4 separate regions of the Homo sapiens genome follow, and all the other regions are linked to region 1. Evidence: fine-mapped expression QTL. A gene starts in region 1. Each other region holds a variant in brackets. All regions are shown on one strand. Distances are from middle to middle. Region 1 holds the start of AP4E1 (adaptor related protein complex 4 subunit epsilon 1). Region 2 overlaps AP4E1 (adaptor related protein complex 4 subunit epsilon 1). Region 3 has its middle 39 kb from the start of SPPL2A. Region 4 overlaps TNFAIP8L3 (TNF alpha induced protein 8 like 3).

Region 1 (8,141 bases):
GTGCCGTGGCACCATCTCAGCTCACTGTAACCTCTGCCTCCCAGGTTCAAGTGATTCTCCAGCCTCAGCCTCCCGAATAACTGGGATTACAGGCATGTACCACCATGCCCAGCTAATTTTTTTTTTTTGTATTTTTAGTAGAGACAGGGTTTCACCATATTGGCCAGGTTGGTCTCAAACTCCTGATCTCAAGTTATCCGCCTGCCTTGGCCTCCCAAAATTCAGGGATTACAGGCATGAGCCACCTCGCCTGGCCTGCAACTAAATGTCTAATTTGGTGAGTTATTGCATCTTTGGAAAGTAGCACTCCCATGAGTTCTTTTACTGATTATCAGCTAGCAGGCATTCATTAGTCTTTTAGCTATTGCATGTCCTTCTCCTATCAATGAAATATAATAATTTCATGTGTAAGATGCTTCAGTAGGTTTTTCATTTTTACTTTGAAAATGGTAATACAAAAGCTTTGGCTTTTATAAAGCATATCATCTCTATGTTGAAAGTATTAAATTCCCTTTCTTTTAAATTCTGACTGGTCTGAAAATGATGCCTCAACTTGATTGGCACCATAATAGTATTTGAAAATGTTCTGTTGAATGACATAAAATAAGGCAAGTGATTAACATCTCTAATGCCAAGGGAAAGAAAGAAGCTTTTGTCATACTTTCCTTTGTTATTTATAGTTTCGACCAGATTTCTCCCTTTCCCTGAGTCAGTGAATTCTGATACTGATGTCAGCTTCATCTTTTTCGGCATCTTTACAGACGGGAAGGTTAGAAAGCGAATCTTCTAGTATCCCCTTTTTAAGCCAATGGAAGAACCTAAAATTAAAAAACTATACATAAAACAAAATTTAATTTAAAGATAAAATATTAAATTCCTTTTTTTTTTGGAGACAGAGTCTTGCTCTGTCACCCAGGCTGGAGTACAGTGGTGCGATCTTGGCTCACTGCAACCTTCGCCTCCTAGGTTCAAGCAATTCTCCTGCCTCAGCTTCCCAAGTAGTTGGGACTACAGGTGTGCCACCATGCCCGGCTAAATTTTTTGTATTTTTTTTTTTTTGAGGTGGAGTCTTGCTCTGTCGCCCACGCTGGAGTGCAGTGGTGAAATCTCGGCTCACTGCAACCTCCGCCTCCCGGGTCCCAGCAATTCTCCTGCCTCAGCCTCCCGAGTAGCTGGGATTACGGGCGCACGCCACCATGCCCGGCTAATTTCTGTATTTTTTTAGTAGAGTCATAGGTTGGCCAGGCTGGTCTTGATATCCTGACCTTGTGGTCTGTGCACCTTGGCCTCCCAAAGTGCTGTGATTACAGGTGGGAGCCACCGTGCCTGTCCGAATATTTTGTATTTTTAGTAGAGACGGGGTTTCACCATGTTGGCCAGGTTGGTCTGGAACTCCTGAGCTCAGACAATCTGCCCGCCTTGGCCTCCCAAAGTGCTAGAATATAGGCATAAACCACCGCGCCCGGACGACAAAATATTAAATTCTAGGCAGGGCGTGGTGGCTCACACCTGTAATCCCAGCACTTTGAGTGGCTGAGGCGGGCAGATCATGAGGTCAGGAGACCGAGGCCATCCTGGCCAACGTGGTGAAACCACATCTCTACTAAAAATACAAAAAATTAGCCGGGTGTGGTGGCACGCACCTGTAATCCCAGCTACTCGGGAGGCTGAGGCAGGAGAACTGCTTGAACCTGGGAGGCGGAGGTTGCAGTGGGCCGAGATCACACCACTGCACTCCATCCTGGGCAACAGAGCGAGACACCATCTCAAAAAATAATAATAAAATAACAAAATTAAATTCTAAAAGAGTATCCCTTTCTGGCTGGGCGCAGTGGCTCGCGCTTGTAATCCCAGCACTTTGGGAGGCTGAGGTGGGCGGATCACCTGAGGTCAGGAGTTCGAGACCAGCCTGGCCAAAATGGTGAAACTCTGTGTTTACTAAAAATACAAAAATTAGCCGGGCATGGTGGCGGGCGCCTGTAATCCCAGCTACTCGGGAGGCTGAGGCAGGAGAATTGCTTGAACCCAGGGGGAGGAGGCTGCAGTGAACCCAGATTGTGCCACTGCATTCCAGTCTGGGTGATAGAGCGAGACTCTGAAAAAAAAAAAATTAAATGAATAAATGAGTATCCCTTTTAGATAAAGTTTAAATATTTTAAAATGTTCTCAATATATTAAAAAATATTCTTGCGAGACAAGCCAACAAATTGAACTTTTTTCTTATGTTCCCATATAGGTATTAAAACAACTTCAGGATTTCAAAAAAACTCATTTATTAGGTGACAAGGAGGTTACAGAGATTAGAGCAGGTATAACCGAAGATAGCTTGTAAGTGTAGCTGTAGCTGGTGGGCCGGTTGAGGTTCTGGACTTCGCGGTGCAAAATAATTTTGAAGTCCAAAGTAAAAGCAAGCAAAAGAGTTTATTGCAAAGCGAAAGTACACCCTCACAGCTGATCAGAGCGGGCTGCTCAAAGGTGAGACAGCATGCACTGACACTGGGGAAACTCCCTTTGTAGGAGTCTCACAGGATCATTCATGAAGCGGGGAGAACGGGTGCTGCTATTAAGCACGTTCTCTGGTTTTCTGTCGCCATGTGCGCTGTGGTTGTATATGCTAGTACATACACTGCATGTCTTATTAGTATCTTAAATCTTCACCCAGGAGTGGTGTTTTTTTTTTTTTTTTTTTTTTACTATTATAATGAGTATAATTCAGCCCAACGACACTGATCATGGGTTTCTGCGCTTGTGAGAGTTTGGGGATTTTCCCTTCTGCTCTCGTACCTCTTTGCTGCAAAATTTTCTAACCAGGAGCCTCGGATGTGGTTTGTACACTATGGGCTGGTTTGTTCTATTTATTTAGCAAGTTTGTTCCCCTTGAAGGGAGGCTATCACCACCTACCTAACCTACCTCCTAGAAACACACTAGGAGTACTGAGAGCAAATTGCATTAATCTCTGAAAACGCACGTATTTATGCCCTAAACCTACTACCTTAGAAAATTCTAGAAAACACAAGGATACTCCAGGATACATTTTACCAGCTAGTCAATCGTCATCTAGCCGCTTGAAAACTCTGTACATTTCCAACAGAATGAGGGTAAAAACGGCAAATAACACGTAAGAAACGTTATCAATGTTGTTTTGACTTTGTGAATTCCCTAGAAGGGTCTCAGCGACCCTGAGGTCACCAGACCACATTTCGAGAGCCATTGTACCAGACTCTGTTCTAGATAAAAGACGGAGCAATCGGAATGAATAAAATACTCTCTCTATGGGGAGCTGTTTACGTAGTGGCAACTGCGACCTGTTCTAAAGTGGAACAGAACCGAGCGCTGTGAGAGGGTGGGACTTGGAGACCTATCCTTGCCCGCCGGGCCAGGGGAGTGGGCTCTAGAAGGATGACCTTTCAACTGCGACCTGCTGAGGAGGAGTCGGCAAGGGTGGCCGCCGACCAGTTCTCTTTCCCGCCCACCTCCCCAAATCCCAGGAGAAGAGGGGCGGACGGGAAGCGACAGTGGCCGCGAGTCCCCGGCACGCGACGGGCTCTCAACCTGGCACGCCGAATCCTCAGGACAGCCCCGCTATCACGCAACTACTCGGGTGTCCCAAGAGTCGCCAGGGCCGGAGCCGCGCGCGGCGCCGGGGACCCGCGTGAAACCGCCTGTGGGAAGCGGGCGGGTGGCGCGCGCTCCGGGGACAGTGAGAGGCGGCGGACGGCGCGGGGACGTCCCGAAAAAGGCGCAGCCAGGAAGACGCAACTCCTGACGCGGTCTCGGGCTACGCGGAGGCGGCTAGTGGGAAAGGGGGACTCTGGGAGACAGTGCCTAACAGGGCCAGGCCCCCGACGGCTTCCTCAGGAGGACTCACGGTTCTGGGGGATTCCGGAACCGCTACCCCGTCGCGAGAAAGGAGGTCTACTTACGCGCGCAATCTCGAGCGAGCGGCCTTTTCCACCCCCGCGGTCTCTTGCGCCCTCTGGTGGCCTCTCGCGAGAACGACGCTGAACTTGTTCAGGTGGGACGCCAATAAAGATTTCTTATTCAAAAAACAGGAAGTGCCTACGGAGGCCGGGCCGGCAGCGGCGGCCGGGCATGAAGCCGGGCGGCTACGGGATCGCGGGCGGCGGCGGCATCGCGGGCGGCGGCGGCGATGAGCGACATAGTGGAGAAGACGCTGACGGCGCTGCCGGGACTCTTTCTGCAGAACCAGCCCGGTGGTGGGCCCGCGGCCGCCAAGGCGTCCTTCTCCTCGAGGCTGGGCAGCCTTGTCCGCGGCATCACAGCCCTCACCTCCAAGCACGTAGGTGCCCGCCGGCCCGGGAGCTCAGGGACATCGGAGTGAGGCCCCCGCGCCAGGAGGCCCTGGCCGGGCGGCGAGACTTCAGGGCCTCTGGGGTTAGCCCTCCGGCGGGGCTCAGGGGCTGCTGTGTCGGTTCGTCCTTTCGTCTGCCTGGAAGCTTCACTTTCCTGCTGGGACTGACAGCAGGGAAGCCGAGTTTCCACAGTTAGTTCTGACACTGACTCTTTGATCGGGGGCACATCTCTGTAACCTCTGAGCCTCCGTGTGTTTTCTCAACGTTGTGGTGGAAAAGTACTGATACATAATTCATAGGTTTTTTGTTTGTTTTGAGGATTGGGTGAGATGTCAAGCGTGTGAAAATACCTAGTGCGATGGAAGTGTCAGACATTATTTACCTTCCACAAAGTTTTTTTTCCCTACTCAGTTTCCTTCTCTCCCCCGGTGCCTTCAACTGAACAACAGTTCAGATGTCGCATACCTGAAGAGATCCTGTGAGCCTCTTGTTGAATATCTTTGGGGAGCTTGAGGTTCTTGGGTTACAACAACGTGTTGGGCAAAGAAAAAGCACAGTTCTCTCAAAATGTAAAATTTGCTAAGTCTCTGCCTCAAGTGGGCTTTGAAAATGAGCAGTTATAAAAATTCTTAAACTTTTAAAATTTTTAAATTTTTATTGACGGAGTCTCTCTCTGTCGCCCAGGCTGGAGTGCAATGGTGCGATCTCGATCTCGGCTCGCTGGAGCCTTAAGGTTTTAAAAATTTTAATTTTTGTTTTTTTTTGAGACGGAGTCTCGCTCTGTCGCGCAGGCTGGAGTGCAGTGGCGCGATCTGGGCTCACTACAAGCTCCGCCTTCCGGGTTCACGCCATTCTCCTGCCTCAGCTTCCCGAGTAGCTGGGACTACAAGTGCCCGCCACTGCCTGGCTAATTTTTTGTACTTTTCGTAGAGACGGGGTTTCACCGTGTTAGCGAGGATGGTCTCGATCTCCTGACCTCGCGATCCGCCCGCCTTGGCGTCCCAAAGTGTTGGGATTACGTGCGTGAGCTACCCTGCCCGGCCTTAAAATTTTTAAATTTTTAATGACGGAGTCTCGCTCTGTCGCCCAGGCTGGAGTGCGATGGTGCGATCTTGGCTCACTGGAGCGTCTGCCTCCCGGGTTCAAGCGATTCTCCTGCCTCAGCCTCCCAAGTAGCTGGGATTATAGGCGTATGCCACTACGCCCGGCTAATTTTTGTATTTTTAGTAGAGACAGGATTTCACCATGTTGGGCAGGCTGGTCTTGAACTGACCTCAAGTGTTCGCTCACTTCGGCCTCCCAAAGTGCTGGGATTACAGGCATGAGCCACCGCGCCGGGCCCCCACAGGCGCTCGATGGTTGCACGGATTGTGTAGTATACCGATTCACAGCTACAAGGAGTTTATATCTTAAAAAGAGCACGTGTTAATGTCATTATTTGTTCAACAGATGTTTATGGAACAAGGTTATGTGTTAGACACAGGAAAATAGAATTAAACACATTCCCTTTTCCCAAGGAATTAGTCATTCGTTTTGGGCTTAAGACAAGTATAAGCATGACTACAATGCAATAGAAGTGCTAAAAGAGAAGGAAAGACAGAAAAGAAAGTGCTCTGAAGGTTTAAAAAAAATATTTTTTTGGCAGCTCTAATAAGTTGATGCTATCCGGAGAGAACCTGCTTCACATTCCAGAATCATTACTTGTGGGCTTGTCTTGTTTTGTTTTGTTTTTGAGATGGAGTCTCACTCTGTCGCCCAGGCTGGAATGCAGTGGTGCAATCTTGGCTCACTGCAACTTCTGCTTCCTGGGTTCAAGTGATTCTTCTGCCTCAGCCTCCCTGGTAGCTGGGATTACAGGCACACGTCACCATACCCGGCTAATTTTTATATTTTTAGTAGAGACAGGGTTTCGCCATGTTGGCCAGGCTGGTCTTGAACTCCTGACCTCAGGTAATCCACCTGCCTTGGCCTTGGCCTCCCAAAGTGCTGGGATTACAGGCGTGAGCCACCACGCCTGGCCATTTGTGGCCTTAATAATGTTGTTTTTCTTAAGGTTTTTGTCCTTTGCTAATTTTTAAGGGATCCTCAATAAAATTTTTTAAAAAGTTATTTTTGGTCTTAAATAGCAGTTTGAAACTGTAGATAGGCATCCACGTGTATCAGTACGTCACTAGTGGCTTTTGAATAGCCATCTGATGAACATGTAATTCAGTGTGTAATTTAAAGGTAGCATGATATTAGCCAAAAAAAAATGGGGCCAATTTTTTAAGTGCTTAGGGAGATAACATACAATGCAGACAGTAGGAGTGACCACATTGGTATGTGTCTGAGATAGGAAGTTATGGAAAGGATTTGGGGAATGAGGAAAAGACAGGGAAGAAGAATGTAGTTTAAGGGAAAAAGACCTATTTCTGTTTCTGCTTTCTTACCCTGTTTCTTAATTCCATGAAGACTTTTTACTTCTAAGGGGAAGATGTGAGATGAGACTCTTTTCTTGGGCCAATACATGGAGAATTTCTACTCTCTCTCCACCTTTAATTTTTTTTTTTTTTTTTTTTTTAGATGGAGTCTTGCTCTGTTACCCAGGCTGGAGTGCAGTGGTACGATCTCGGCTCACTGCAACATTCACTTCCCGGGTTCAAGCGATTCTCCTGCCCCTGCCTCAGCCTCTCGAGTATCTGGGATTACAGGACCCCCAGCTAATGTTTGTATTTTTAGTAGGGACGGGGTTTTGCCATGTTGGCCAGGCTGGTCTCAAACTGCTGACCTCAAGTGATTCACTCGCCTTGGCCTCCCAAAGTGCTGGGATTACAGGCATGAGCTGTTGTGCCCGGCTTCCACCTTTAGTTTTAAAAAAAAACATTTTCTGCTATTCTACCATTAAGGGGAAGTAACTGAGTAAAGAAAAGAGGAAGGATGGGTTAGCCTGGAAATATTTATTCTCTCCAGGGATGGTTCTGAGGTTTGGAGAAATGCCTTTAGATAGATCGTAAGCAGATAGTATTTGTAACTCTCCTTTAAAATAATGTTTCTTTTAAATTAAAAGTATTGTAAATTATATTTTTCCGTTTAGATAAATGCTGTTACAGTTTTAAAAGACAGTTAATCAAGCATTTAAATATTTTCACTTTCTCAGGAAGAAGAAAAATTAATCCAGCAGGAACTGAGTAGTCTGAAAGCGACTGTTTCTGCTCCTACTACAACACTGGTAGGTTTGCATAGTCAGTGCCAACACATTTGAATTTGAAATCTAGTCACTGTGGACTCAATAGTGGCATCTAACTGATGATCGGTTGCTAAAATTTGATTTATCATAGTCAAAATGAATTATAGTTGGTAGCAACTCAGATGTTAACTTTAGCCTTTTATTGTTGACTGGTTTGCACCAGAACAAGATTTGCCTATGTGAAGTCAGGGCTAATGTGATGATGATTACATAAATGTGGAGATACTCTTGGGACCCTAGTGCTGATCTGATGTTTTTAATGTTATGCATTTGGAAAAGGTTGGGATTTCAACATGATATTTTCAGACCTGAATTAATATATTGTAGGTATATCTAATTTTATTATTTAAGACCTAGTTGTTTTTAAAGTTTGTTCTACATAATCTGATTTTTCAAACAATATTCAGCAACTATTTAATGAATGGTCATTCATTATTATGCAGGCCACTGTGGGGCTGTCCCAGCATAGCTAGATTAAAACTCAGTTTGATTTTTTTTTTTTTTTTTTGAGACGGAGTCTCGCTCTGTTGCCCAAGCTGGAGTGCAGTGGCGTGGCGTGATCTCAGCTCACTGCAACCTCTGCCTCCTGGATTCAACCGAT
Region 2 (8,000 bases), 79 kb after region 1:
TTTTGAACCATATGGACTCTCCTTTTCTTCATCTGGCTTCACTGGACGACAGTCTCCTGCTGGCATTTCTCTTGGTTCAGATGTATCTGGGAATAGTGCTGAGACAGGACTGAAAGAGTAAGTTCATTTCTTATTAAAATTGAGGTTATGGGAGTGCTTAAATGTCTTTTAGCGTTCCATTTGCCTTCTGCTCCTGCCTCATATCATCATGGTCATTATTTGCTTATTTTAGGATAACTTTCAAGAGGTCTATTGTTTCAGTGGTTTTCACATAATTTTCTTTTTTTTTAATTATACTTTAAGTTCTAGGGTACAGGTTCACAACGTGCAGGTTTGTTACATATGTATACATGTGTGCCATGTTGGTGTGCTGCACCCATTAACTCGTCATTTACATTAGGTATATCTCCTAATACTATCCCTTCCCCCTCCCCCCACCCCACAACAGGCCCTGGTGTGTGATGTTCCCCTTCCTGTGTCCAAGTGTTCTCAATGTTCAATTCCCACCTATGAGTGAGAACATGCAGTGTTTGGTTTTTTGTCCTTGCGATAGTTTGCTGAGAATGATGGTTTCCAGCTTCATCCGTGTCCCTACAAAGGACATGAACTCATCCTTTTTTATGGCTGCATAGTATTCCATGGTGTATATGTGCCACATTTTCTTAATCCAGTCTATCATTGATGGACATTTGGGTTGGTTCCAAGTCTTTGCTATTGTGAATAGTGCCGCAGTAAACATACGTGTGCATGTGTCTTTATAGCAGCATGATTTATACTCCTTTGGGTATATACCCAGTAATGGGATTGCTGGGTCAAATGGTATTTCTAGTTCTAGATCCTTGAGGAATCACCACACTGTCTTCCACAATGGTTGAACTAGTTTACAGTCCCACCAACAGTGTAAAAGTGTTCCTATTTCTCCACATCCTCTCCAGCACCTGTTGTTTCCTGACTTTTTAATGATCACCATTCTAACTGGTGTGAGATGGTATCTCATTGTGGTTTTGATTTGCATTCCTCTGATAGCCAGTGATGACGAGCATTTTTTCATGTGTGTTTTGGCTGCATAAATGTCTTCTTTTGAGAAGTGTCTGTTCATATCCTTCACCCACTTTTTGATGGGGTTGTTTGTTTTTTTTCTTGTAAATTTGTTTGAGTTCTTTGTAGATTCTGGATATTAGCCCTTTGTCAGATGAGTAGATTGCAAAAATTTTTTCCCATTCTGTAGGTTGCCTGTTCACTCTGATGTTAGTTTCTTTTGCTGTGCAGAAGCTCTTTCGTTTAATTAGATCCCATTTGTCAATTTTGGCTTTTGTTGCCATTGCTTTTGGTGTTTTAGACATGAAGTCTTTGCCCATGCCTACGTCCTGAATGGTATTGCCTAGGTTTTCTTCTAGGATTTTTATGGTTTTAGGTCTAACATTTAAGTCTTTAATCCCATCTTGAATTAATTTTTGTATAAGGTGTAAGGAAGGGATCCAGTTTCAGCTTTCTACATGTGGCTAGCCAGTTTTCCCAGCACCATTTATTAAATAGGGAATCCTTTCCCCATTTCTTGTTTTTGTCAGGTTTGTCAAAGATCAGATGGTTGTAGATGTGTGGTATTATTTCTGAGGGCTCTGTTCTGTTCCATTGGTCTATATCTCTGTTTTGGTACCAGTACCATGCTGTTTTGGTTACTGTAGTCTTGTAGTGTAGCTTGAAGTCAGGTAGAGTGATGCCTCCAGCTTTGTTCTTTTGGCTTAGGATTGACTTGGCAATGCGGGCTCTTTTTTGATTCCATATGAACTTTAAAGTAGTTTTTTCCAATTCTGTGAAGACAGTCATTGGTAGCTTGATGGGGATGGCATTGAATCTATAAATTACCTTGGGCAATATGGCCATTTTCACAATATTGATTCTTCCTACCCATGAGCATGGAATGTTCTTCCATTTGTTTGTATCCTCATTTATTTCTTTGAGCAGTGGTTTGTAGTTCTGCTTGAAGAGGTCCTTCACATTGCTTGTAAGTTGGATTCCTAGGTATTTTATTCTCTTTGAAGCAATTGTGAATGGGAGTTCACTCATGATTTGGCTCTCTGTCTGTTATTGGTGTATAAGAATGCTTGTGATTTTTGCACATTGATTTTGTATCCTGAGACTTTGCTGAAGTTGCTTATCAGCTTAAGGAGATTTTGGGCTGAGACTGTGGGGTTTTCTAGATATACAATCATGTCATCTGCAAACAGGGACAATTTGACTTCCTCTTTTCCTGATTGAATACCTTTTATTTCTTTCTCCTGCCTGATTGCCCTGGCCAGAACTTCCAACACTGTGTTGAATAGGAGTGGTGAGAGAGGGCATCCCTGTCTTGTGCCACTTTTCAAAGGGAATGCTTCCAGTTTTTGCCCATTCAGTATGATATTGGCTGTGGGTTTGTCATAAATAGCTCTTATTATTTTGAGATACGTCCCATCAATACCTAATTTATTGAGAGTTTTTAGCATGAAGCGCTGTTGAATTTTGTCAAAGGCCTTTTCTGCATCTATTGAGATAATCATGTGGTTTTTGTCTTTGGTTCTGTTTATATGCTGGATTACGTTTATTGATTTGTGTATATTGAACCAGCCTTGCATCCCAGGGATGAAGCCCACTTGATCATGGTGGATAATCTTTTTGATGTGCTGCTGGATTTGGTTTGCCAGTATTTTATTGAGGATTTTTGCATCGATGTTCATCAGGGATATTGGTCTAAAATTCTCTTTTTTGGTTGTGTCTCTGCTAGGCTTTGGTATCAGGATGATGCTGGCCTCATAAAATGAGTTAGGGAGGATTCCCTCTTTTTCTATTGATTGGAATAGTTTCAGAAGGAATGGTACTAGCTCCTCCTTGTACCTCTGGTAGAATTCAGCTGTGAATCCGTCTGGTCCTGGACTTTTTTTGGTTGGTAAGCTATTAATTATTGCCTCAATTTCAGAGCCTGTTATTGGTCTACTCAGAGATTCAACTTCTTCCTGGTTTAGCCTTGGGAGGCTGTATGTGTCCAGGAATTTATCCATTTCTTCTAGATTTTCTAGTTTATTTGCGTAGAGGTGTTTATAGTATTCTCTGATGATAGTTTGTATTTCTGTGGGATCGGTGGTGATATCCCCTTTATCATTTTTTATTGCATCTATTTGATTCTTCTCTTTTTTTATTAGTCTTGCTAGCGGTCTATCAATTTTGTTGATCTTTTCAAAAAACCAGCTCCTGGATTCACTGATTTTTTGAAGGGTTTTTTGTGTCTCTATTTCCTTCAGCTCTGCTCTGATCTTAGTTATTTCTTGCCTTCTGCCAGCTTTTGAATGTGTTTGCTCTTGCTTCTCTAGTTCTTTTAATTGTGATGTTAGGGTGTCAATTTTAGATCTTTCCTGCTTTCTCTTGTGGGCATTTAGTGCTATAAATTTCCCTCTACACACTACTTTAAATGTGTCCCAGAGATTCTGGTATGTTGTGTCTTTGTTCTTATTGGTTTCAAAGAACATCTTTATTTCTGCCTTCATTTCGTTATGTACCCAGTAGTCATTCAGGAGCAGATTGTTCAGTTTCCATGTAGTTGAGCGGTTTTGAGTGAGTTTCTTAATCCTGAGTTCTAGTTTGATTGCACTGTGATCTGAGAGACAGTTTGTTATAATTTCTGTTTTTACATTTGCTGAGGAGTGCTTTACTTCCAACTAGGTTTTCACATAATTTTCAAAGGGAGAGACACACTTGTGACAATGTGTTTTAATATAATGGTTTAGAAAGGTTTTTAAAAGCTAAATTGTATGGGCTGTTGTTTCAGTGGTTTCTATTTATTGCTCTTAAGGTATTTATATTGTACAGTATGTTCTTTAAGAGCTTATCTACCTTCCAAGACAGCATAAAATATGTACAAGCTTTATACGTAGTAATAATATGTGTTATTGCTACATATTATATATATATATTTAGAAGCATATTAGAATTTATACATCCAGGCTGATGTTTAACATATCATTCTACATTCCTCATTCTTCTGATAAATATATCTTGTAACCGTCTCATTGGAACATTGATAGATATAGAGGTGAACATAAAATAAGGTGATTGATTTCACCTGAGGAAGCCATATAGTTGGTCACCCAGTGAAGGCCAGATGCCCCTAAACTTATGATGGGGTTACATTCTGATAAACCCATTATAAATTGAAAATATCGTAAGTCAGAAGTGATCTACCAAACAGCAGATGTATGTCTAGAACTCAGTTCTGCTGATCATTGGCCCATTATTGTTTATTATTTTATTTTATTGTTATTATTTTTTTGAGACACAATTTCACTCTTATTGCCTAGGCTGGAGTGCAGTGGCATGATCTCGATTCACTGCAACCTCTGCCTTCTGGGCTCAGGCAATTCTCCTGCCTCAGCCTTCCGAGTAGCTGGGATTACAGGCTCCTGCCACCATACCCGGCTAATTTTTTGTATTTTTAGTAGAGATGGGTTTCACCATGTTGGCCAGGCTGGT[C/T]TCAAACTACTGGCCTCAAGTGCTCCACCCACCTCGGCCTCCCAAAGTGCTGGGATTACAAGTATGAGCCACCGTGCCCAGCCTATTTATTATTGTATTAGCTCATTATTATCTCTGCATTGCAAGAGAATATCCTATCACATATTGCTAGCCTGGGAAAAGATAAAAGTTCAAAATTTGAAGTATGGTTTCTGTGAAACTCTATTGCTTTCACACCGTTGTAAAGCCAAAAAATCATTAAATTGAACTATTGTAAGTCAGGGACCATCCGTAGTCACCTATGGAAGCTGTATACTTTGCTGAAAATGCTTTCAGAGTTACTTTCCAGCCACCTTGAAAATTGGTGAGCATTTGCTAAAATGTCTTATTTGGAGCCGAATTTCATCCTTGTTAGGTATACTTTGATTTTGGAAACATAATTAGTTACCTTTAGAAACATAATTAAGTGAATAAAATGAGATGACATTTGTAAGTACATAGTACAGCCCAGTTCATAGTAAGTGATTGATAAATGGTAGTTGCTGTTATTAATAATGATTGTCATTACCATCATTGTCTTCATTACCCAAGAGGTGAGTTTACCAGATAATATTTGTGATCAATCTGTATAATTTTGATCAATATTCTGATGCGACAGTAAAGTAAGGAAATGGCTTTCTTGTTTGGGAAGAAGCTGCATCTAATAGAGTTAAAAATGTTTTAAGTAATGGCCGCATTGTTGGAATAAATGTGATAAAATCTCAAAAGTGACAACTTTAAAGGATGACATTTGAATTTTGAGTTCTTCTGTATTTATTAAGAAATCAGTCATCTTATTTTATGTTCATCCTTACATTTGTCTGTTGTTCAATGAAATGGTTACAAGTATTTATCAGAAGAAAGATACTAATAATAGATCATGAGGAATGTAGAATATGTTGAATGAAATGGCATGAGTTCAAATTCTTTTTCTTATCTTTTTTTTTTTTCCTGCTCTGTTAACCTCCTTATTTTCTTTCCCAGATATTTAATTTTGATACTCCAAGCATGGGGAGCAAATATTGTTTGTGGGCATTTGATGATGGAGGTGACAGCAATTAAGTGTCCCAAACAGGGACCAAAGGGACAAGGGAAAGAGACAGGAACCCTTCAAACCCAGGGAGGAACTTACACACTTTTACCTGCACAACAGGTGACAGCATCTACTACTATAGTACTGAACTAGGATCTGGGGGGTGTGACAGGGCCTTGTAAATGCCATACATATACATCTACTACCCTCAGAGAAATGACATTTGGCAAAACTGCTAAGGAATTATATAATATATCCTGCAGTATTGTGAAATGGAAGATAAGGGATGAATTTAAAATTTGTTTCCAAAGAGGACCTCAGCTCACACATTATTTCAGAAGAGGAACATAGTAATTGGCAAGGTGAATCATCTTAGAGGGAAGACAGTTGCTCTTTTACAGTCCCTGGCAACCTGAGAATAAAGTAGTAGCAAGTCTAATTTATAATTTCTTAACTGGCAGCACCCTATCTCAAATGGGAATTCCTAGAGCTGAGTTAAAGTACATCCCTAGTCTTTTGAAGGTTAGTTACTTGGTCAGAATTTACATCTATGTTTGAATGGTCTGAATAAAAACAATACAAGGGCACACCGTAGAAAACCATGTATTATATAATAGTATTGTCAAAATCCGGGCAAAGATGACTCATGTTTAAAAATATTATTTTTCTAATGTTTCATATAATTAAGAAGCATATTTTTTATATGAAATGGCCTTATGTTGCTTTCTTATGTATTTTCCCATTTTTTATTATTTATTTAATTTATTATTATTATTATTATTATTATTATTATTTGAGACAAGTCTCATTCTGTCACCCAGACTGGAGTGCAGTGACATGATCTTGGCTCACTGCATCCTCCGCTTCCTGGGTTCTAGTGGGTTCTCCCAGGTTCTCATGCCTCAGACTTTGAATGTGGAGTACACATTCAAAGCCGGGATTACAGACGCCTGCCACCATGCCCTGCTAATTTTTATGTTTTTAGTAGAGGCAGTGTTTTGCCAAGTTGGCCAGGCTGGTTTTGAACTCCTGGGCTCAAGTGATCCGCCTGCCTCAGCGTCAGTGCTGGCATTACAGGTGTGAGCTACTGCACCTGGCCATATTTTCCCACTTTTTAGATGGTCTGTATGTATGCTTAACAGAATATTTGTGTCGATCATAAGTATGTATGCAGATGAAATAAATAAGAAAATAAGAAAAATCTTTAAAATAGTTTGAGGCTCCTTTTAGGCTCCTTTTGTACCTCCTGCCCCTTTTTGCCAGTTGTGGATTGAGTTCCCTGGGAAGCACATTCTGTGATGGCATTTAGTATGCAGAATAATTAGGAGTGTCGTTGGGATCAACATCTATAGAAGGAAGGAAAAAGAAGCAGGTTTGGGCAGAAGTTAAGATGCAATGCATTGCCGGTGACAACCTCTGCTGACCCCATGGGGAGCTCTGGAGCTGGAATGACCCTTCAGAGTTGTGCTGAGTTGGACCGAGATGGATGGCAAGGACTTTATACTTCCATTCATCCATCACTGGATGTAGGCTGCCTTGGAAGGGGTGTGATCTTGCGTGAAGTAGCCCTCTGCAGCTCAGGCAATCCCTGAAGGGGCTGAGAGATGACAGCATTCCCAACAGCTGGTCAACAGTCCTTCATTGAAGAGAGATCCGGATGGAGCAGCCCATTGTCCTCCACATCGGCCTTTTGTTGTTGTTGTTAAACTACTATTTAAATCATGGATTAGTAAAATTTAGGGACTTGTTCTCTCTTTTTTTGTAAATAAAGGTAATATTTTGGTTAAAGGGAGTATACAGATACTATAATACTATTGTGGGTATTCATGAATTCCCTAGAGGTGCTTCTTTTGAGAATTCTATTCTAGAAATGGTAGGAGTTATTTTAGTGGTTCCCATGACCACTTGGGATCTGCTTATGGCAAGTACAACCAATTTTTGTCTAAGAGGTTTATTATATAACTTTTTTTTTTCTTTAGAAAACTCTTTTAGAACCTGGAGGAAGAAAGGGGGAAATGAAGATATTTGTAAAGGGATACTCAGCAGTAAAAATCATTGAGAAGGAATGAACCAATTCCCTTTAGGGCATTTTTTATTAACATTCAGATTTTCCTGTAGCTACTTACTTCTTAATAGCATTAATTCTTCACTCAGTATGAAGTGTAATTACCTGTTTTTGTTTTGTTTTGGGCTCAAAATCACATTGATCATGATTCCAACAATTTCAATACTAATAATAATTAGTAGAAATATTTCTGAGTCTTCCTTTTTGTTCATTTCATGATCAACTCATCTTGTAGTAGAAATGATTTTTTAAAAATGCCATTTTGGACCATGACAGAGATGCTTAAATAAGTCAAGTGCCAAGGACACATAGTTCTTTTTTTTTTTTTTTTTTAACTCCAGTGTTATTGAGATATAATTGCCAAATAAACATTGTATATTT
Region 3 (8,141 bases), 100 kb before region 1:
TAAATGTGGGCACAACCAGTAAACAGAACTGCACCATGAAGGATTGGAAAGTCATAAATAGAGAAAGTCTAGAGCCCCAAAGCTGTGGGTGAAACAGAAGTGGTTTCAGATACAGGACCCAAGAAACTGAGTTTTTAATAGATAGGGGCTCCATCAGAAAGTAGGATGTCATTTCCTTATGATGATAGTAAGCAAGAGAACCTGGCAGGCAAGACCTAGCCAGTAGTCTGGGCCTAGCAGACAGTCCACAGGTGCTAAAATAATTTAGTAAATAAACAGAGTATTCTAGATTCATCTGACAAGTTAGATACAAATAAGTATCATATAGTGTTCAGCACAAAGAAAACGTGCCTGGCAGTGGTGAGCACCTGTAGCCCCAGCTACTTAGGAGGCTGAGGTGGGAGGATCACTTGAACCCAGGAGTTTGGGTCCAGCCTGGGCAACATAGTGAGACCCTGTCTCTAAAATAAAATAAAATAATAAAATAAAATAAAGTACCTGACACTGACACCTAATATGTGGTAGCACAAAACCAGGAGCTTGGCCGGGAGCAGTGGCTCATGCCTGTAATCCCAGTACTTTGGGAGGCTGGGGTGGGTGGATCACCTCAGGTCAGGAGTTTGAGACCAGCCTGGCCAACATGGCAAAATACTGTCTCTACTAAAAATACAAAAATTAGCAGGGTGTGGTGGCGGGTGCCTGTAATCCCAGCTACTCGGGAGGCTGAGGCAGGAAAATCGCTTGAGGCTGGGAGGTGGAGGTTGCGGTGAGCCGAGATCACACCACTGCATTCCAGCCTGGGCGACAGAGTGAGACTCTGTCTCAAAAAAACAAAAAAACAAACAACAACAAAAAACAGGAGCTTACACATGTGGCAGGCAAGAGTTTGGTCCCTCACACTGGGAGCAAGAATTCATTAATCCAATAAAAGTATATTGGGGCCAGGCACGGTAGCTCGTACCTGTAATCCCAGCACTTTGGGAGGCCGAGGCAGGCAGATCACTTGAGGTCAGGAGTTCGAGACCAGCCTGGCCAACATGGTGAAACTCCGTTTCTACTAAAAATAAAAAAATTAGTTGAGTGTGGTGGCGCATACCTATAATCCCAGCTACTTGGGAGGTTGAGGCAGGAGAATTGCTTCAACCCCAGGAGGTGGAAGTTGCAGTGAGCCAAAATCATGCCACTGCACTCTAGCCTGGGCAACAGAGCGAGACTCTGCTTCAAAAAAAAAAAAAAAAAAAGTATATTGGGGCCAGACGTGGTAGCTCATGCCTGTAATCCCAGAACTTTAGGAGGCTGAGGCAGGAGGATCGCTTGAGGCCAGGAGTTCAACACCAAACTGGGCAACATGCTGAGACCCTGTCTCTAAAAAAACGGAAAGAAAGAAAGAAAAAAAGTATATTGGTACTGTTCTAAGTGCTATGGAGGGAGAAAGCAGTGAACAGGACAGACAAAAGTCTTTGCCCATTTTTATTCTAAATGAAGTTAAATCTGGCTCTGTACCACATTGGTCAAGGGAGATGGGAAATCTGGGTTTTGTCATGTTTACTTTGAGGAGGGGGGCATTTCCTAGGGTATCTTCACCTTCCCAGGGTCCTACACATTCCAGAATATTCAGAGGTGAGCCCTCTGGTCTTCAGACCACACTGGCTACCACTGCTGGGTGTTGATCCTAGTCCTGTGGTTTCTTGGCTGGCCCACTTCTAATATTTTCAGGGTCTAGGATGAGAATACAAATGGAAGTTTATATTAAATATTTGAAAGTTATAAATCAGGCCAGGTGCGGTGGCTCACACCTGTAATCCCAGCACTTTGGGAGGCCGAGGAGGGCGGATCACGAGGTCAGGAGATCGAGACCATCCTGGCTAAAGTGGTGAAACCCCGTCTCTACTAAAAATACAAAAAATTAGCCAGGCGTGGTGGCAGGCGCCTGTAGTCCCAGCTACTGGGGAGGCTGAGGCAGGAGAATGGCGTGAACCCGGGAGGCGGAGCTTGCAGTGAGCCGCGATTGCGCCACTGCACTCCAGCGTGGGCGACAGAGCAAAACTCCGCCTCAAAAAAAAAAAAAAAAAAGAAAGTTATAAATCAAGCTGACAACCTCTTAAATAGGTTCTGTCATTCTGTCTTGACAAATATATTTTCATAACAAGCTGGAAGTCCTTGTTCAAATTTAGAATTTGAGGACTTCTTGGGCTTCTGCATCTGAATGTGCAGGTGTAAGAAAAGCTGGCCCTAGGCCCTAGCTTTGGCCTCTGATGATATTGTGATTAATAATAAGAAATATATATTGGGTCTTCTTCCTTTTCCTACACAGAGCTTCATTTCCTGGGTGATTGCAGTGTTTTGTTCTAATGAGGCATCTCTCAGTGGCCCCTAGATAGCTTAAGGATGGGGGCTGGTTGCAGAGGAACCATCCAGGTGATTACAGGGTTGGAACATTCAGCCCCATCCCCTGACCTCCAGGCAGGAGAGAAGGCTAAACATTGAGTTGATACCAATGGCCAGTGATTTATTCAGTCATGCCTATATAATGAGGCCTCTATAAAGACTCAGGAGAACAGTATTCAGAGAGCTTCCAGGCTGGGGAATGTGTGGACATGCTGGGAGGGCAGTATACCCAGAGAGGGTATGGAAGCTGCATGCCCCTCACCACATACTTTGCCCTATGCATCTCTTTTGTTTGGCTGTTCCTGAGTTGTATCTTTTATGATAGATGGGTAAATGTAAGTAAAGTGTTTCCCTGAGTTCTGTGAGCCATTCTAGCAAATGATTGAGCCTAAGGAGGAGGTCATAAGAACCTCTGGTTTATAGACAGTCTGCCAGAAGCACAGGTGGCAACCTGGACTTGTGATTGGTAGTTGATGTGGGGGCAGTCTTGTGGGACTGAGCCCTTAATCTTTGGAATCTGTACTGACTCCCACTAGATAGTGTCAGAAGTGAGTTTAATTCCCAGTTGGTGTCCATAGAGAATTGGAGAGTGGCTTAGTATGGGAACAAAACCCCACACATCTGGTGACAGACATGATGTATTGAGAGTGGTGTGAGGATAGAAAAAAATAGTTTGTTTTTCCTGTATATTTGGCGTTTTTTCCTTCTTACACTTCCCCTCTTTCACTTCCCATCCCAGCTCTGTTCAGGACAATAAAGGAACTTGCATGCATGTGTGTGTAGACCAGCTTACACATCCAAGCTCTGTTCACCAATCCCCATTCCTGCCAAAAAGTCACCTTTTAACTGTCCTTCATGTGAAGGCGTGTACACAGAGGCATGGCTGCCTTCAGGAATGTAAATCCTGGAAAGAGACTGGCTCAGGACCTGGAAATAGTTCAGGCCATTTGGGCTGGGAATTCTGGGGTCCCATTTAGATGAAGCACGGTCTACAAGGGTGAGGTGTGGGCTCCAGGTGGACATGCCCCTTGTGGACCTCTTCTCCCATAAAGAGGGGCACAATCCCATGGAGGGCCAGAGTAGGGCTCTCTAAAGTGTGGGACCCAGGACAAGAGCTCATCTCTCCTAGGTGTACAGGTGGTTCTGTCCTTGTGGATAGGTGATTCCTCTA[CTTG/C]TTTTTTTTTTTTTTTTTTTGAGACGAAGTCTCACCCTGTTGCCCAGATTGGAGCGCAGTGTTGCAATCTTGGCTCACTGCAACCTCTGCCTCCTGGGTCCAAGCGATTCTCTTGCCTCAGCCTCCCAAGTAGCTGGGATTACAGGTGTGCACCACCATGCCTGGCTAATTTTTTGTGTCTTTAGTAGAGACAGGGTTTCACCATGTTGGCCAGGCTGGTCTCGATCTCCTGACCTCGTGATCTGCCCTCCTCAGCCTCCCAAAGTGCTGGGATTACAGGCTTGAGCCACCATGCCTGGCGATTCCTCTACTTTTGAGCACAGGTTGAGCCAGAGGTGTATACTAAAATTGGAAGACTTGAAGTCTAGTGACCAACCCTTCTTGCCCCCTGCAGTGCGGCACACTGCCAAGTCAGCTATCACGATCAGAGGCCTTGGACCCAAGTACTGTGTGGGAGCACACATGTCCCTGATTTTCTTGAAACCTATAAGCACTTTCTCCTAAACTTGGGGAGATAGTCCCCAAATAACTTTATTTCCAGTATTGGTCTACTTCTTCTCCCAACCCTTGGTGCCTCCTGCCACCTCCAATAATCCAGCAATATCACCTCCAAGACTAGATAGAAGGTTGTATTCTAAGTGTCAGGCAACTTTTAATTTTGGCCCTGCGACATTAGGGCTATTAACCATTCCCTGAAGCAGAGGGCTACTTTCTTCAGATGAGTGAGGCAAAAATACCTACAGCAGCCTGAGCAAAACACAGATTAACATCTCAGTTCCCCCCCAACAGATACATATTATCTCATTCATTTCTTTTTTTCATTTTCTTTTTATTTTTGAGATGAAGTCTCACTCTGTCGTCTAGGCTGGAGTGCAATGGCACGATCTCGGCTCACTGCAATCTTTGCCTCCTGCGTTCAAGTGATTCTCCTGCCTCAGTCTCCCAAGTAGCTGGGATTACAGGCATGCACCACTACACCTGGCTAATTTTTTTTTTTGAGACAAAGTTTTGCTCTTGTTGCCCAGGCTGGAGCACAATGGTGCGATCTCGGCTCACTGCAACCTCTGCCTCCTGAGTTCAAGCAATTCTCCCGCCTCAGCCTCCTGAGTAGCTGGGATTACAGGTGCCTGCCACCACCCCTGGCTAATTTTTGTATTTATTTTAGCAGAGATGGAGTTTCACCATGTTGGCCAGGTTGGTCTTGAACTCCTGATCTCAGATGATCCACCTGCCTCGGCCTCCCAAAGTGCTGGGATTACAGGCATGAGCCACCATGCCTGGCCTAATTTTTGTTTTTTGTTTTTGTTTGTTTTTTGAGATGGAGTCTCACTCTGTTGCCCAGGCTGGAGTGCGATGGCATGATCTTGGCTCACTGCAACCTCCGCTTCCTGGGTTCAAGCGATTCTCCTGCCTCAGCCTCCAGAGTAGCTGGGACTACAGGTATACGCCACCACGCCCAGCTAATTTTTTTGTACTTTTAGTAGAGACAGGGTTTCATCATATTGGCCAGGCTGGTCTCAAATTCCTGATCTCAAGTGATCCGCCCGCCTTGGCCTCCCAAAGTGCTGGGATTACAGGCGTGAGCCACCGCGCTTGGCCCATTCATTTATTCATAACGGTTTTGTTAAGGAAATTAAACTGAAGCTCAGGAAGATCAAACAACTTGCTTAAGGCCATAAAATAAGGAGAAGAACTAGAATTCATTTCCAGAGCTGTCTTACTTCAAGGCTTGTGCTCTTTTCACCATCCACCAGCATCTACCACATCTAAGAGTTTTAAAGACATTTTATTTTTGTTTTATTTATTTATTTATTTAAGATGAAGTCTTGCTCTGTCGTCCAGGCTGGAGTGCAGTGGCGCAATCTCGGCTCACCACAACCTCTGCCTTCCAGGTTCAAGCGATTCTGCTCTCTCAGCCTCCTGAGTAGCTGGGATTACAGTCACAAGCCACTGCACCCGGCTTATTTTTTGTATTTATAGTAGAGACAGGGTTTCACCATGTCGGCCAGGCTGGTCTTGAACTCTCAACCTCAGGTAATCCACCCACCTCGGCTCCCAAAGTGCTAGGATTACTGGCGTGAGCCACAACGCCCAGCCAATAAATTTTAAAAATCAAATTTGTGAAATTGCTGGCCAAAGGGTGTTATGTAAGTATTCCATTCATTAGAATAGATCCTGAGATTTGTTTTTGAGAATCCAAAGTATTACAAGGGATATAGTAAGAGGGGAATTGGAGCCATTAGGGGATGCATTTCTATAAAGTGATCATGCAGCATTTTATTGAAATGTGGACTGTATGCTGGACAGCACTAAGGGATTAGCGAACTCATTTTGCATTATTTAATTCCAAAAAGCCACTAAGATGCTCATCAGAAAAGCACTGTCAAAAGTGGAAATAGATAAATGTCATCTGTAAATAAATTAGAATTGATTGTGAAATATTTGGTCAGGGCCGGGTGCAGTGGCTCACACCTGTAATCCCAGCACTTTGGGAGGTTGAGGCAGGCAGATCACAAGGTCAGGAGTTCAAGACCAGCCTGACCAACATGGTGAAACCCCGTCTCTACTAAAAATACAAAAATTAGCCAGGCGTGGCAGCGTGTGCCTGTAATCCCAGCTACTTTGGGAGGCTGAGGCAGGAGAATTGCTTGAATCCGGGAGGTGGAGGTTGCAGTGAGCCAAGATTGCACCACTGCACTCCAGCCTGGGTGACAGAGTAAGACTGTCTCAAAAAAAAAAAAAAAGAAAAGAAAAGAAAAAGAAATATTTAAATATTTGGTCAGTTCTTATTGTTTGTTGTCCTTCCTTTTCTTCCTTCCTTCCTTCCTTCCTTCCTTCCTTCCTTCCTTCCTTCCTTCCTCCCTCCCTCCCTCCCTCCCTTCCTCTCTCTCTCTTTCGAGACAGGATCTCACTCTGTCACACAGGCTGGAGTGCAGTGGTGCAATCTCGGCTCACTGCAGCCTCCACCTCCTGGGTTCAAGCAATTCTTGTGCGTCAGGCTCCCGAGTGACTGGGATTACAGGTGTGCGCTGCCACATGCGGCTAATTTTTGTATTTTTAGTACAGACGGAGTTTCACCATGTTGGCCAGGCTGGTCTCAAACTGCTGACCTCAAGTGATCTGCCTGCCTCGGCCTCCCAAAGTGCTGTTTCTTTATTCCTATCATCCTGCTCAGGGCAGAATGTGTCCTTCTAAAATGTAGGGCAGAAAGACTCCTGAGGTCTGGTTTTGTTGATGGTTTATATTGCTTGTTGTGAGTTCCAAAGATACACATCCTGAGGGAATAACAAAGACTTATTAAACTGTAACATTTAAAATCATGGAACACAAAGCTTTTTTTTTTCATTACTTTTATGCTACAACCCAGACACTATTAAGTACAGATCCTAATTGCCTCACTAATTTAAGAAGAGAATGAGGAGTAAGATAGGGAAGGGGGAAAGAAGCCAAGCAAAGGTACAATTTCAGATGATGTCTGGCCTCAGCCTGATCCTGTGGAGAGCTCTGGAGCATAAGTCATACCTTCAGGCTTATCTAGCTTTGAGGCAAATAAGTTTTGCTTTCATACTCAGACACTACTCAGGCAATGGCTATGGTTCCCTTGGGACAATTCTGGGTTTCGGGGAATAATAGTGAAGTGGATTGATTGAAAGGAAACCAAACAGAAAGTGGGAGATGGGCCCCAGAGCTAATAAAAAAAGGATCAGAGAAGCTGTGGGTGATGCACTGACAGTATCAGCTATGCCAGAGACCATCTATTCTATAGGTTAATGCTTTCACTGTAGGTCTGACTCTTTCAATCAACAGGCAAAAGCTTCATTAGCAACAAGTAGTTGTAGAGGAAGAGACTCTCAGGGCTTTGAACTGTTTAGAGTAGCCTAAGGAATTCAAACATTTTCCTACCCAAGATTCCAGGGGAATCAGAGTAGCAGGAATATGATCATATCTCCTAATACAGTGTCAAAAAACCTTTTAGGCAATTGATCGCTAAGTACAGACCGTCCCCTACTTATGATGGTTTGACTTCCGATTTTTCAACTTTATGATGGTACGAAACCACTACAATTTTGAAGTAATGTACAGTATTCAATAAATTACTTGAGATAGTCAACACTTTATGATAAAATAGGCTTTGTGTTAGATGATTTTGCCTGACTACAGGCTAATGTAAATGTTCAGAGAACGTTTAAAGTAGGCCAGGCTAAGCTGTGGTGTTCAGTAGGTTAGGTGTATTAAATGCATTTTCAACTCGAGGTATTTCAACTTGGATGGGTTTAGCAGGTGGTAACCCCAAGGTAAGTCAAGTAGCATCTGTAAATGTCATGCTACCAGCACTTTAGGAAAGGTAAAACATTTATCAGACTCAGACAGTCCTTATAAGCTTACACTATAGCCAGGTAGATGAGATTCACATGCATGAAACAAGTATGAGCAACACTGGACACGACATAATTAAAGACTGTTGAATTCTGAAAAAAGAGGAATAGACTCCTGTTGGGTACACTCAGAGACTTACAGTATAAGTGGTGAATAAGATCGGATCAAGTCTAAGCACGCAGCTATTCAACAAATGTAAACG
Region 4 (8,141 bases), 170 kb after region 1:
TCGCTAGACACTTCCCAAGTGTGAGATGCCACCCCTGTCCCATGGACTGACCCCTGCCCCGCATGTTCCCCAGTCCAGGGGACTCTCCCATCCATAACTGCTTGCCTGATCCCTCCCCCTCCACATTCAACATTTCTCTCAGCTCCTTTCTCCAACCCTCCTGAAGTCCTCTCCTTGTATGATACGTGACTCTGCCACCGGCCTGTGTCCAGACAAGAACCTGGGGACCATCCTTGCCTTATTTCTCTCCCTCACCTCCCATATCTAACGAGGCCTCCGACTGTCTATTCAGCTTCTGTAACATCTTTAAATGCACCTGCCTTCCTCTGCCTCTCTTTCGCTACCTCAGTACAGACCCTCATGGTTTCTTCCCCGAATGCTTGTCTGTCTCCTTGCTCATCTCTCTACCCCAGCTACTGTTCTATTTTCCACACCAGGCTGACAGCAGGCTTCGATGATGCTGCTCCTCTAGAAAAGGCCTTGAGGGGATTCCCATAACCTTCAAGACAGCCCAGACAACTCTTTAGCATGGCACACCAGGCCACTGAACTGACATCTGTCTTCTCTTCACCCTCTACAAACCCTAAGCTCCCAGCTCCAGGCCACAGGCAGGTCTCACCTGCACCAGGCCTGGGTCCCCTTGCACTTTTGCATTTTCTGTCCCTGTGCTGGGACACTGACCTCTTACTCTCTTCCCAGCCCAATTCCTGCTTAGCTTCCAGGGCTCCATTTGAATGACTTCTGACTTCTAGGCAATTTCTTTTTGCAATCACCTGCCCTGTCACTTATCACCTTGTGGAGCAATCAGTCATCCACTAGCTGGATGAGGAATTTTATCACCCACTGGTCTGTGAACTCCTTGAGGGCAGGGACCAAGGCTTATTTATCTGGGCAACTGTAGCTAGGGACTGAAACAGAGAATGTTCATTGCTTGAATGCATGGCTCTCACTCATGACATTTTATTGAAATGCATTCACACTCATGTCAGGAACAATAATGATAATGAGAGCTGGCATGTCCTCCAACCAGGGGCCTGAGACACTCTCACCTGGGAATGGTTGCCACATCACTCACCAGGTTGCTCTGTCACTTCTTTTCTTTTTATTAAGAAAATTATTTTCAAAGTAATACAGGGTACAATTATTTAAAAAGTCAAATCAGACTGAGCATGGTGGCTCATGCCTGTAATCTCAGCACTTTGGAGGCCAATGTGGGAGGTTCACTTGAGGCTAGGAGTTCGAGGCTGCAGTGAGCTATGATCATGCCACTGCACTCTGCACTCCAGCCTGGGTGACAGAGCAAGACTTTGTCTCAAAAAAAAAAAAAAAAAAAAAAAAGAAAGAAAGAAAAAAAAGAAAAGTCATTCCACAAGGGAGGCTTATAACATGATGTAGCATCCCCAGCACACCTCTGATGCTAGCTACTTACAGACAAAATAGTTTAAACTATTTTAGCTGTTTCAATGAATAATTACCTCTCTATATTTAAATTACATGCTTACACTGTTAATTCTTGATTTTATTTGCTTTTAACTGTCTACTACAGAAGGTGAAAACTTAGCTTTCTTTCCCATTCATTTCTCCTTCCACCTTCCAATTTGCTTCTCTTTCAACATTTGGTTAAATCAAACTTCAGCGATGACATTACTATGATTTAGCTATCATTCATAGCCAAGTCATGTAGTGTCCTATAACTTCCATGCCTGCATTTCCTTTCTTATTCATCTTGTTTTCCCAGGAGTTAAACACTATTTTTTAATCTCCTGGTTAGTTTTTTATCTGTCTAGTGCAAATTCATTCCTAAAGTTCGTAGCAGAATAGAAAGTTCTTCTCAATAGGTTCAAACACATCAACTAATCAACTGCTTCCACTTTTTTTTTTTCTTGGAGATATCTCTGGCAGCCCTCTGTCCCCCAACTCAAGTCTGGGCATGTTTCTCTTGATGCCTGACACACGTAGTCATCCTGGGTCCTCCCTTCACTCTTTACCCCTTCTCTCCTGTGTCCATCTCCTGTTTCTTGGATCTCACAACTCCTTTTTCTTAATTTGGTCCTCGGTTCAGTGGAGCACTTGGTCTAGCACAGACTTCGGCAAACCGCCTTAAAGAGCCACAGAGTAAAGGAGAAAAAGGCAAAATAGAGGATATTGTATAGGTACTTAAATAACCATGTAAAGTGTAAATAACCATGTAAGGTGTACTTAAAAATGGAAACACAAAAACAGGTGGCAGGCCAGATTTGGCCTGGGGGCCTCAGTTGGCTGCCGCCTGAGTAAGCAGCTATCTCAGGAAGAGGACATGATAAAGTCATTTTTTGGTATCTAACATATCATACAATGACTTTATTCCAACCACACCCTTGATGGATGGTTTGCCTTGGTCTAGAGCTCTATGTTGGAAATCATTTGCCTTGAGAATTCAAAGGCAGGGCATCATTGTTGTCTAAAGTTCAGTGTTGCTATTTAGAAAACTAGTATACATTGGTAAGGGCCTGTTTTTTTTCTCTCTGGAAGCTTTTAAGATTTTTGCTTCGTGACTTAACTCCAGGAATGGCCACAAGACTTGGCTTTTTCACTGCCTTAGTCCCTCTAACACTCAGGAGGGCTTGTGGGGGTGGGTGGGGGCCCAAGGCAGTGGAAACGGAGAGCAGCATCTGGGCCTGAGATGGGCTAGGGAAGGGAAGACATCTCAGGTGAGGCAGAGAGCTGGGACCAGGGAGATGGGGAGGACAGGGTGAAGTCAGGAGGAGATATTAAGCTTCTGGAGTGTGGACAAGATGGGTAGGGCCCATGGGGGGCCCAGCTTTTCTGGAAGTTTTAGATTCTTTGAGCTTAAAAGAGGCTACCCTCCAGGTGGAGGGGCTCAAGAAAGCTGGGGCAGCCATGACGGGACTCAGTGACTCATGAGAGAATGGACTTGTCCTACAGCACTCCTGTCATGTGCCCCATGACTCCCTGAACCACTGACCAGCTGCTCTTGGCCCTCACCTGGCCTTGATTCCACCTGTGTGCTGTCTTAGCACCAACCTCCACCCTCTTCACATGCTGCTCAGACCTCAGCCACTCTCATTGAGTGATGACAATTTGGCAGAGCTACTTTTTACATAGTTTGTTTTTTAACAACAACACAACAGAAAACAAAACAAAACACTAAGAATGGGTGGAAACAGGCCTCCTCATCCATTCCCTGAGTCTCGGCACATCACTGACCTCCCTCCCAGGATGAGGAGAAATCCTGGGTAGAGGTGGTTGGTAGCAGCCCTTGTGCTTACCACGCTTGCTGGTCTTAGGATGAGCTATCCATCATTTTGGGCACAATGCTCCCTTTGTCCAACAATTTGCTCCTGTCTCAATCATTCTCCCTCTCTTATTCCCTGATCTCTCCTTTTAAAATCACAGTGGTCATAGTCACTCACTTGCAAATAATAAGAAAAGATGGCTCCTTCATAAAGGCACTAAATAAGGGAACTTTCCTGCTTTCAACTTGAAAACTAAGAAAGAGTGA[AT/A]TTTTTTTTTTTTTTTTAATGAGGGGACTTTTCTGGAAGCGTGAAAAAGCATAGTCAACATAGAGTCATGAGTGACTTGATGGGGCTACGTTCTCAGAAATGCATTAGGGGATTTTGCCATTGGGTGAACATCATACGGTGTACTTATACAAACCTAGATGGTCAAGCCCACTACCACCTAGGCTATATGGTACAGCATTTTGCTCCTAGGCTACAAACTTGTACCGTATGTTACTGTACTGAATACTGTAGGCACCTGTAACACAATGGTATTTGTATATCTAAACATGTATAAGGTACAGTAAAAATGCAGTATAAAAGATAAAAAATGGTCTACTTCTCTAAGGCACTTAGCATGAATAGAGCTTGCAGGACTGGAAGTTGTTCCAGGTGAGTCAGTGAATGAGTGGAGAGTGAATGTGGAGGCCCAGGACATAACTGTACACTACTATAGACTTTATCAACACTGTACACCTAGGCTACATTAATCTTATAAAAAACATTTTTCTTTCTTCAGTGATAAATTACCCTTAGCTTACTGAAACTTTTTTACTTTATAAACTTTAAATTTTTAAAAACTTTTTGACTTTTGTTGTAACACTTAGCTTAAAACACAAGCACATTGTATAGCTGTACAAAAATTATTTTTTCCTTTATATCTTTATTCTATAAGCTTTTTTCTATTAATTTTTTTCTTTTACTTTTTAAACTTTTTTGTTAAAAACTAAGAAAAACACATACATTAGTCTCTGCCGACAAAGGGTCAAGATCGTCAAAACATCATCAGGTGCAAGGAATTTTTAGCTCCATTGTAAGCCTAGGGACTACTATCACGTCCAAAATATCATTATGCAGCACCTGACTGTATAATTTTATACCTGAAAAGGAGTAAGGATAAATCATTTTTCATAATATAAACCAAGAAAGTAAATAAAGATAGACAAAATCCTGGCTGATGGGGAATACCAACTATTAAGGGTGATTGGGGCTAATTTAAAACTGGGTTAAAAATTCTGTTAAATGTGAATCTAAATGGTGGGCACTTCCTTTTCTAGAAGCCTCCTGACTGGGCTACCTCTGCTTGGGAGGCTAGAGGGGAGTAAGGGATTCTGGGGCCACCGTATGATCTCTTATTTTTAGCTTCAAGATGCACAAGGAATCTTCAATTAAATTTCAGTCTAATTCCTTCAGAAATAGATTCACATTATATTTAATATCACACCACTCCTCAATAATAAATTTTTTTGGAACGATGGACTGACGGTGGTGGTGGCAGACCAATACCTCCTAAAAGCTAACAATCCCGTTACAACAGGCTTTTAAATGTCGTTGTATCCCCCTCTAATTTAAAAAGTAATAAAAACACAAAATTAGTATAGGTAAATGAAAATGTGGGAAGTGAATGTCACTCATATCTGGAATAGAGGTCAAGGACAGAGGAAGGGTTGCAGAGGGCATGTGGGTCAGAGCTGCCAAGTGGACCCCCTGCCAGCCAGCGAGCAGCAGCGACGCTGAGTTTCAAGAAAGCCAAGATGGCTGAGTCCACAGGCTCACCCACGGGTGCGTTTAGACTGGGATGCTGCAGTGTCCTTGGCCAGTCTGTAGGCCTCATATTTACAAGCTCTGACCCTGTTCATGGCATGGAGGCCCACAAAGGCTAGGCCAGGTGGGCTCAGAGCAGGAGGTGGTGATGGGGGTGGAGGCACCAGAGAAAGCAAGGGCTGAGGCTAGGGCAGGGGGTGAACAGGGCAGAAGGCTGGATCACCCCAGGCAGGGGGCTGGGCGGAGCCAGTGAGGGGGGCCACAGAGGACTGGAACACAGGGAATTGATGGAAGAGCAAATTTCAAGGGAGAGGACGGAGGGGCCTGGGACAAGCCTGCAGGAGGATGAGCTGGGGAACAGGCACTGCAGCTCACTTGGCTATTGTTTATAAAAGCAAATTACCAGCTGAAAGCTGCATGTACTCACTGAAGACAAATCTGGAAGACTACAAAGAAGACAATTAAAATTACCTATGCACTCATCACAGAGTGGTTTATTTTGCTCGAGCATTAACAAAAAATCTCAAGTGTTTACGTGTGTGACTGTGAGGGGAGATTTCTCCCCCTCTCCATATACAAAGGGGTAGATGTATAGGGGTGTGTGTGTGTGTGTGTGTATGCACATTTATGTATATACGTACATACAGAAAAACAGGGATCACAGATTATTGAGCCTTCTTTGACAATGTTATAATGTGAACATTTCCCTATATCATCAAATGTTCTTCAAATTAACTTTCCTTAACATCTGAATAATATCCCACTGTGTGGAAATGTCATTATGTATTTAATCATTCCATAAATATTTGACTGAATATTCAAGTTGTTTATTTAGGTTTGTTTCTGCCCCCGCCCTGGCCAGTTTTAAATAGCAAAAATCTGCCATTTACTTTGTGATTGGGATAATTTAATCTCTCTGCATCTGTTTCTTCATCTGTAAACTAGGAATGATAATACCTGCTTTATCCATGTCATGGTTTTGCTATGAGAACATGTGTGGAGGAGTTTTCACTGTTCTATGATTTCACAGTCTTTTAACTTCGAGTGACTCGGTGGCTGTCAAGGCCACCAGCAGAGTTGGGAAAAAGTGAGGGAAAGGTGATGGCCTGGAGTGGGTGTGTTGGGGTGTCTCCTAAACAGTGAGGAGGAGGGGTCCGGGGCCTTTAGAAGACAGGATTCTTGCTCAGGAAAGAAGACTGGGCTAGAGTACAACTTTGGGAGCCTTTAGCTTCCCAAAAGCTTACAGCTATTGTTATAAGAATGGATGGTCTTTTCTAATAAAGTATTTTGTCAGAAAAAAGCAAGGCAAGAGCTCCATCTTAAGGGACATAGTTAGGAAAAAGGTATTAATGAGGGATGCAGGAGGAGCAACTGAGAAGGTACAGAGAAACCAGGATTATACACAGAGAAGTTAGAAACAAAGAAAAATAGAGTCACAAAAATTCAGGTTTGATACCTACCAGATACTGCTGTGGGCTCTCTAAAAGTTGACCCTGTATAAATTTAGCTCTGCCTGCGTTGTTTGACTCAGCGAATTATGAAGTTAAATCCTAAAGGTAGAGAGACCAAACATGGATGAACAAACATGCCAGTTTCTTTACAATAAAAAAAAAAATCAATCTAAAGAAAGATAAAATGTAATTGGAGAACTAGTGGCCAATAAACTTTTCTTGAAGCTGGTAGCTATTTAAGCTCAAAGTAAATTAACCTTTGCAATTGTCACTGGGCATCTGTAAAACCTACCAAATGCCTCTCAAGTATTAAAAAAAAATGCATTAATCTTCTGAGGGCTTTGTGGAGGGCTCTTCTGACTAAGAAAGAGAAGTGGGCCTGACCCAAGGGAAGGAGGCCCCTGGGCAACGTGCTAGCGTGGGCCTGTGCTGGTCTGACCTGTGGCAAATGGGCCCAGGATGGAGAAACCTAAGAAAGGAAATGCAGGTGATGGGAGGGAGTGGCAAGAACACAGTAGAAGGTGTCAGAAGGAAAAACAGCAAAAGTCCTTTTGATATCTCAATACCTGGAATAGCTCCGATTCTTTTTTTTTTTTTTTTAATTACATGTTTTGGGGTAAACACAAAGAAGCCATGGGATCTGGCCTCCAGTTCTGGTTCTAACACTGCCTGACAGTGGAACAAAATGTTTTTAGCATCCCAGGTCAACATTTCAGAAACAGGACTCTCATTCTTTTTAAACCCTCCTCTCTCCCTAAATAAAGCTCTCACATCTTTTTCAAATTGCTTTTGGACCACCTTCTTGGAATAGTGCAGTCTTCTCTTAGGGCTCAATCTAATTTTCTTCCTTGTACTGTTTTCACATATTCTACCATGAGCTTGCACTTTTTTGGTCAGAAAATAATGTTACTGACAAGCAATAACTAAGCGACAATGCTTGAAACACAGACCTGAGTCATCCAGCTCTGAATGTCAAGTTCTTTTCACTATGTTGCACTCTCACCTTTTGAATTTTCTCTCCTCAAGTCCTGCTGGTCACCATGTCCTGGGGATTGTATATCTGAAATGATTCTAAATGCTGGGGTGAAAAAAAGGGCTTAGGACCCAGCTTAAGCACACTTTGAAAAAGGGTGTATTTGACTTTGGTATCTCTCTTAACTCTGCTTTTCAAACCTTCTTCTCTCCTCTCTCACCAGGCCCATGTGATCCAGAAGAAGCCCACGGCTGGAGCGTCCTTCTAGGGCCTTCTGCCTAGCAGTGGCTTTGTGCTAACTCTCCCATCTTCCCTCACAGATCGCCCTTTACCATCCCCTGATCTGGATCTGGAGTCAGCCAGTCCTTCCCCATTTTGTTTATAGGCTAATGCAGGGAATGTCTGCAGCTTAAAGCAGGCCTTTGTGGAGGCAGAATGCCCTCACCTAACAGAGGGAGCCTAAGGGTTAGGGTTCTGGGAACCGTGGGAGCTGTGTGGGGGATGCAAGACAGCCTGGTGGCATCCGTGAATCTAATTACGTAGTCTACCTGGTGCAAGAGAAGAGTCTCTGGAGTTAGACTGGCTTCATTTCTACTGACAAGCTGTGCAACCCTGAGCAGGTTACTTAACCTCTCTGTGTTTGGTTTTCTGTTCTATAAATTGGGGCTATTT

What was found. PIP is the estimated chance that this variant, and not a neighbour inherited with it, causes the effect.
Region 2: its variant is fine-mapped to the expression of AP4E1 in whole blood (INTERVAL, PIP 0.90).
Region 3: its variant is fine-mapped to the expression of AP4E1 in whole blood (INTERVAL, PIP above 0.99).
Region 4: its variant is fine-mapped to the expression of AP4E1 in monocytes (Quach 2016, PIP 0.95).

The regions. Positions count from the first base shown.
Region 1 is chr15:50,904,628-50,912,768 of GRCh38, forward strand. It overlaps AP4E1 (adaptor related protein complex 4 subunit epsilon 1), which reads left to right and starts at 4,056. Exons shown (of 21, transcript NM_007347.5): 1 at 4,056-4,301; 2 at 7,451-7,522. The coding sequence starts at 4,152. RefSeq lists enhancers at 3,649-4,390, 3,865-4,154, 4,175-4,344, 4,391-5,132.
Region 2 is chr15:50,984,029-50,992,028 of GRCh38, forward strand. AP4E1 (adaptor related protein complex 4 subunit epsilon 1) reads left to right here. Exons shown (of 21, transcript NM_007347.5): 16 at 1-117. Among named protein-coding and RNA genes, the nearest start is that of MIR4713HG, 49 kb to the right of the region's middle. The variant C/T (reference allele first, on the strand shown) is at 4,504.
Region 3 is chr15:50,800,864-50,809,004 of GRCh38, forward strand. No RefSeq gene overlaps it. Among named protein-coding and RNA genes, the nearest start is that of SPPL2A, 39 kb to the left of the region's middle. The variant CTTG/C (reference allele first, on the strand shown) is at 3,560.
Region 4 is chr15:51,078,542-51,086,682 of GRCh38, forward strand. All of the region lies in intron 1 of TNFAIP8L3 (TNF alpha induced protein 8 like 3), which reads right to left. The region is part of intron 1 of MIR4713HG (MIR4713 host gene); the gene reads left to right. Among named protein-coding and RNA genes, the nearest start is that of TNFAIP8L3, 12 kb to the right of the region's middle. RefSeq lists an enhancer at 392-551. The variant AT/A (reference allele first, on the strand shown) is at 3,503.